Linked DNA regions of Homo sapiens. The protein of the gene in region 1 interacts with the protein of each later gene in a pairwise test. Each region holds a gene or a part of one and is shown on either strand. Other genes may lie near its edges.

Region 1 (3,679 bases):
AGGCTGCCGACGTGGATACTCAGAGATGATCACAGACCTGGCTTCTGTCAGGGGATGCATCCCACAGGCCAGGGGCTACTGCCACCTTTCACAGACGAGGAGCAGCGAGGCTCAGCAAGTGTGGGAACTTGTTCAAGCACGCACAGCTAGTCTGTGGTGGCGCTAGGATTCAGACTCGGCTCTAAAGAATCCCAAGCCCTGGCCCTAATCACAGAGCTAAAACCCCCAGGCCACACCCAAGAGCATCACCCAGCTAGAGGGAGGGAGAGGGAGCACCGGGGCCAAGGTTGCCGCCAGGGTCCCAGGACACATTGGTGCCGATCTCGATCACAGCATTCACCCCCGACCCAGATACTGGTGCATCTGATACCTACTGGCCATCCCCCAGGGTCAGGTCCCTGGGGCATCCACTGGTGGGGCTTGAGGGCTGCCAATGCTGCCCTTCCTGGTTGGTTCCCCTGGCATACCAATAGGTGTGTGCCATCTCACCGCTTCCCAGAGGGTTTTCCCTCCCCAGCTGAACGACAAGAATGAAAATGATCCCAAGTGGGTGTGGACATGGGACTGCTGCACCTGATGGGCAGAAGTCCAAACACACTGTGCTCCCCACACAGTGACTCTGGGTCTGGGCTAGCCAAGCAGTGAGAACTTTGAGTGGTTTTATGACCAGGGAGCCCAGGAATGCCCAAATCCTATGCCACCAAAAAGACACCAACGAATGTCTTTATTACCATCTGGCCTGAAACAGTCTGGAATGGGGCATCGGGTTTGGGCTCTCTGCCCAGTTGAGGCTTCCCTGCTCTAAGCCCAAAGCTTATCACCAGCCCACAGCTGGTCCCAAGGATGCCCCTGGGCCAGGATGCCAGTGAGGCTCACCCTGTCACCCCTCTTCTGCTGGGTGAAGAGCATTAGGAGGGGCCACAGCTCCATCCACTGGGCATATGGCCAACCAGATGAGTGTCTCTGCCTGCCATCAACAGGGACCTCCATTGTAGAACACAATGGCGGCTGCTCATATACAGTGGCGGCCTAGCACCATGGTATGACCCTTTCACGCCTCACCTCATTGAATCCTCTCCACATGCCTAGGGGTAAGAACTACAGCTGAATCAATTTCACAGGTGAGGGACTGAGGCTCAGAGAAGTTAAGAGATTTGTTCATGCAACTCAGAAGTGGCAGGAAGAGAACGAACGGATTTCAGGCTGTGGGGGTTGTATGTGAGGTTCATATGCGAGTGAGGTCCTCACCTCTCCAAAGCTTTCCCTACAGGCTTCCCTTCCATCCCCACTCTGACCTCCTAAAATGTCCAAATTACTCCATTCAGCTTTGTTGACCCTTTTTGTGTGTCTTAAATGGCTAGGAGCAGCATAACAGCATAAACAGAGGGTGAAACCCAGACCTTGAGTCCTGGGCAGCCTTAACACTTTCTGATTCTCAGGTACTCAGGTGAAGGGAGGTCACACTCCTCTCCCAGGGCAGGAGAGGGGCTTAAATGGCATCTGGCATATAAAGCTGTTAGCATAGTGACTGGCACACAGTAATCTCTCAATCAGTGGTACCTTCAGAATGTCTGCAGCAGGCTCGTCTGTCTGTTTCACCTGCCCTGCAGAATCCTTGAAGGACAGCACCAGCCCCCCTCCATCTCCTCCCCTAGCTCTATCCTATCCCTCCTCCCCAAGTGCCCAGCTTGGGGCCCCCCACACACTGCAGGGACTCAGTGAGTCCTAAACAACTCACTGACACTGGCAGAAACTTGGGAGAAAAGAAGCCACGCCTTCTTCCCCATCCCTGAGAAGGAGACAGCATTCCTGACAATTCCCAGCCCACCGCCTTCCAGCTCTAATCAAGGAGCAAACACAAAGAGGGAATCTCTAAACATTTAGAAAACGCGGGAACCCTGTGCCCCCATGTGGCACCGTGGGGATTTATAAAGAACAAATCATGCCTGACAAACTTGATAGCTTTCTTGATAGAATTACAAGACGGGTAGATGAAGGAAACGCAGGCAGGGTAATATATCTTGATTTTTAGCAAAGCATTTGATACAGCGCCTCGAGTAATCTTACAAAATTAATTCAAACAGACTTGGCCCTAAGCACTTGTCATGGGGCATAATAGCAGGAGGGGGCAGGTCCCAAGGGCCCCGGGTGGAGAAGGCAAGCCCAGAGGAAGGGGCTGGAGGGCCGCAAGTCTGGGAGTGGGGGCAGGGCTGCCAAGCCTCAGCATTGGGTCAGATCTTATCTAACATCTTCATTAATGATCCTGAGAGAGGGAGTAAACAGTCCGTTAATGAAATTTGCAGAGGATATTAAATTGGAAGGTGTTGTGAACACCAATGAGGACAGCAAAACAGTCCAGAGAGACCTGCCGGGGGTAGAACCTTGGCAGGAACCGGAGAGCTGGCAAGGGGTGTCCATGGGGGTGCCGGCAGCAGCTGGGGCTGCTTGGAGAGCCAGCAAGAAGGGAAGGGCATCCCCAGGGCTGGTGTGTAGCTGAGAGAGGCTACAACTAGCTTGGGCTCTGGCCATACAAGCAAACCCCAGAAATCTGTTTTCCCATCTGTGAAAGAGAAGGGTCGGCAGCTAAAGAGCAGGCTTTGCAGCTCTGACAGCTGGTTGTGATGGGCATGGGATGTCTTTAAGGAGCCTGGAGCTGAAGCCCATCTTCCAGGAGGGGAGGAGGGAGCCCTGCCAAGGAGCAGGGAACCTGAGGGCCATGGAGGGGAGGGCTGCAGTGAGAGAGAAGGGCCGGTAAGGGAGACCGGGTAAGGCATCAGTGGCACTCAGAATCTCCCCTAGCTGCACTCCTCAATGCTGCTGAGGCAGGCACTGGGGCGGGGAGCCCCTCACCCTGCCCCAGCAGGCAGGACAATAACAGATCAGCAGCTGCTCAGGCTGGAGCCCCAAGCCTGTCCAGACTCTCAGGGCATGCTGGGAACAATTGAGCACTAGAGGTTCTAACTTGGGGTTAGGAGAGTGTGCAGGATCTGTTACCTTTCTGAAGAGCTCCCTGTCCCTCTCTGGCTGATCAAGAGGAAGACAGATGCTTCTCCAGCCAGATGAACCAGCCTCTCTAGGATCAGGGACAGTGGCCTGCCCCACCCCAACCCCTTTACTCTGTCACAGAGGGCCACCATCTCTGCCTGGACCTCTTCTGCTCCTCTCCATCTGCCTCAACCCCTAGGGGCTCCAGGGCTGACCCCTGCCTTTAGCGGGAAGGCTGAGGCAGGGAGCTGCCTGTCCATCTGGATTTACTCCCACAAGGCTCCTAGACAGGTAGGGTCTGAACAAAACCCAGGGCTGCCTAGCACTGTGCCAGGCCCTCAGGAACCTGAAACAAATGCTCCGTAGAAAAAAATGGCTGGCTGCTTCCCAGCGGGGGGTGTGCCGGGGCCGCTGGGGAGAGGCTGTTTCAAAGCAGGAGGCCAGCCCAGCAAGATGTCAGGACCACCTGCTGGGACCTAGGGTAAGGATCTAGGTGAGCATGCTTGGGGAGTTTCTTCCAATGTCCTGACTTAATTCCTAGGAATGATGCTTTGGAACACTTACTATGGCACCATTCTAAGTGTGTCTCATATATTACTGCATTTGACCTTCACAACAATGCTATCAGGTCGGTGTTATTTTCTCCATTTACAGAGGGGAAAACTGAGGCAGGGAGAGGTAGCCATGAGCCCGG
Region 2 (3,679 bases), on another chromosome or scaffold:
TCAAATAAATAGTTGGCTGACATAAAACAGGAACAGCGTGTAACAGCCCATTGTCCAAATCTAGCTGACTCTGTTTCTGTATGTCCCACAAGTTATGAAATAGCTCTTATATTTTTAAATGATTTTAAAAAGGCAAAAGAATACTTTTTCATTACACATGAAAATTATGTGAAATTCAGATTTATGTCCATAAGTTTTATTGGAACAGCTGTGCTGTTTATGTAGGTACTATCTATGGCTTCTTTTGCACTGCAAAAGTAGAGTTGAGTAGTTGCAACAGACTGCAAAGCCCAAAATATTTAGTTCCTGGTTCTTTACAGGAAAAGTTTGCCAATCCTGACAAAGAATCACTGATGAAGAATCATAGTGGCCAAAAGTAACACTTAATCCTGAATACATATGTTTTTAAGAAGAAAGTTCAAAAATTGCCAAGACTTTTCAATTTGGCCTACTGTTACCCCTAAAAAGTGCTGCTGCAACTGAATAGCATGTGTTTTTGAGACTAAACTTCCAGCCTTTCTGTCTTGCCCCATCCAGGCAGGACTGCTCTCATCAATTTACAACATGAAGTGTTTTATTTGCACTCTGTGAAGGCAGAAGGAAAAAAGTGTCCGTTAAAAAGTGGCAGTTTAGGTATTTCAGTAATTCCTTAGCCCATCCTTTCTTATTGTGTAGGATAATGCTTATGACTCACAGTCAGATTCTCAGCAGAGGAAATCCAGTTATCTGTTGAACTTTACAATAATAAAATCTCAGTGATGAGTGGATTTATTACTCCACATGATTTCCAGTAGTGCTAAGGTTAATAGATCTGAAAGTAAATCAGCTGATGGGGAACGGGGACAACTACAGCCCTCTGGACTAATCAGCCTGTGTTGTCATCTTGGAAAGAATGTTTAACTGCCTTTCCAGAAACTTACCCAACAAAAATTACTACACAACAAATTTCATTTGTTTCATGGTTTGCTTGGTTTTCTTTTGTTTCTTCCTACAAGGTCTTTAGCCTTATTACTTTAGAACTTCAGGAGGCATATTTTAACACCTACTTCACAGATTTTTGTAAACATTATAAATACTCATGTATGTAAGGAGGAGCTACATGTGGCTAACATGTCATAGGAATTCATAAATGGTAGTTATTAGGAGTAGTAACAAAAGATACCTTCAGAATGAGAGAATTTTAAGAGTTGTATAATTTCATCTTTTCAGAAAAATTAACTTACACAGGAAATAAGCAGGTACAGAAACACTGCTAAATATATATTCAATGCAGCAGTTTCTAAGTGAGAAATTTGGACACAACAGATTTCATCATATAAAATGGAATTAATTAATTAATCTTTAATAATGATAAAGAATATGTGCTGATATGAAAAAATGTTCATAACATGGATGGGAGGGAGAAGATTTTAAATCACTGTGTATACCATTCTTTCATTATTGAAAAAATACAGGCTAGAAAAGGTTTAAAAGACGTATATCAAGGCAAAAAACATCCAGAGATAAAGTATAGATAATGTTTCTGTTTGTTGAGCTATCATTTCTAATTTTTATAGTAACTTTTGCTTTTAAAGTAAAAAAGCAATTTTAGAAAATGTATGTGAGTTTCCTGGAGGTAAGCCCAACTTGAATGTTCAATACAAAAATTCAAATGTACAGGCTTATGTCCATATTCAGACCCTTCTTTGATTAGTTAAAAGTTTATTCTACTGCCATTTTGGTAATAAAAGAAAAAAAAATACTCTAAACCAGGAGTCCCCAACTCCCAGGCCACAGACGGATCAGATCAGCAACATTAGATTCTCATAAGAGCACAAACCCTATTGTGAACTGCACATATGAGGGATCTAGGTTGTGTATTCCTTATGAGAACCTAATGTCTGATGATCTGTGGTGGAACAGTTTCATCCCAAAACCATGTTCCCCAACCCTTTCCTGTGGAAAAATTGTCTTCCACGAAACTGGTCCCTGGTGCCAAAAAGGTTGGGGACCATTGCTCTAAACTATGGCAAAGTAGTATTTACAACCAAGTATCATAGGATCCCTAATTTTTAGGAACATTCTCAACCAGCAAAATACCCACAAGTGGCCGGGTGCATTGGCTCACGCCTGTAATCCCAGCACTTTGGGAGGCCGAGGCCGGAGGATCACGAGGTCAGGAGATCAAGACCATCCTGGCTAACACGGTGAAACTCCGTCTCTACTAAAAATACAAAAAATTAGCCAGGCATGGTGGTGGGCACCTGTAGTCCCAGCTACTGGGGAGGCTGAGGCAAGAGAATGGCGTGAACCCAGGGGGCAGAGCTTGCAGTGAGCCGAGATCTCGCCACTGCACTCCAGCCTGGGCGACAGAGTGAGATTACATCTAAAAAAAAAAAAAAAAAAAAAAAAAAAGTCCACAAGTGTATTAACCAAAATATCACTATTTGTCCCTTTCCCCATAAAACTGGTAGGAAGGATTCAGTCCTAAAGTAATACATGGGAAACTTGAAGGAAATGAATTTCCTGAGATTTTAGTGAGTGAGAATTTCTTTTCTCTTATTCCCAGAAGTGGTAGATGACTAAGGGTTCATTTATAAGCCTGCTAGAGTTTAAGCCTCACCTCTGAGCTATGCATTTATAGCACAACATGCTATAAATAGACACAGCTGGAATTAAGAGGGCTTCCTCTGTAAAAACATCAGATTTCAGTCTCAGAACTCTAGTGATGCATTCCCAACTTAGATACTGTGTACCTTTTTGAGGGGTAACCAGGTGGGGAAGAATTTTGAGAGGTGAAGGTAGGATACTTTCATTTTAAAGTCATTAGAAAAATATGAAAGTGCCATTTTCCCAGTGTATACACTGATTATTTCTAGCCAAGCATTTGATATGTGAAAGACCAAATCCAGTTTTCAAAATGTGTACTTAATTCCTTGTTCCTGGTGATTTGCAATCCCATATACACATCTGGGGTTCTCAAAAACACAATGTGACATGGGAACTGACACAAAAAAAACTGGGCTGAACTTTTTGGCTTGTCCTCATGTAGATCATAAATGAACTTTTTGAGAGTCTTTGAATGTCCCAGCCTAGCCAGACTGGGGGCAGGTATGAAGCAAATGGCAAATTAAATTGTTTAAGAGGCTTTTGATCAAAAAGGGTAAATGCTATTTTCCCATTTTTCTTCATGAAGATACAAACACTTAAGTAAAATAGAAGGATTACAGAAAACTATCATCTACATTTACTGATCATTTTATCTGTATTCTACAAGGCCAGCCTAATAATCTTTACTTTCCACCGGTAAGGAAACTAAGGTTCAAAGAGGTAAAGATCATGCAACTAAGAAGTATCAGAAGTGAAATTCAAACATAGTTACTCCTCGTTCTCAGGGAATCTCAGTGTAATAAGGGATATAAATGCACAAGAAATTAAAATATTAGATTAAAAAATAATAAAAGATTAAAATCCTACATTGGAAGGTCAATTAAAAATAAATAAAAAATAAAAGATTAGACAAGATATAAGTGCCATAAGATAATTTTCAAAAAATGCTATCGAGATTCAAAGGAAAGAAAAAGACATATCTAGCTAGAAAACTTGCTGAGAAGTATTTTATTTTATATCTATTCTACTATGCAGGATACTGTGCTAGACATTGAGAATATAAAAGTGAATAAGCAACATCCCTGCCCTC

What was found. The genes of interacting proteins can lie anywhere in the genome.
Region 2: the proteins of CHST1 (region 1) and STOM interact in binary tests that used the Homo sapiens proteins (3 or more experiments, as listed by UniProt).

Annotation. Positions count from the first base shown.
Region 1 is NC_000011.10:45,659,089-45,662,767, forward strand, and holds part of CHST1 (carbohydrate sulfotransferase 1), read right to left. Parts: intron 1-3,679. UniProt on the Homo sapiens protein: Sulfotransferase that utilizes 3'-phospho-5'-adenylyl sulfate (PAPS) as sulfonate donor to catalyze the transfer of sulfate to position 6 of internal galactose (Gal) residues of keratan.
Region 2 is NC_000009.12:121,360,096-121,363,774, reverse strand, and holds part of STOM (stomatin), read left to right. Parts: intron 1-3,679. UniProt on the Homo sapiens protein: Regulates ion channel activity and transmembrane ion transport. Regulates ASIC2 and ASIC3 channel activity.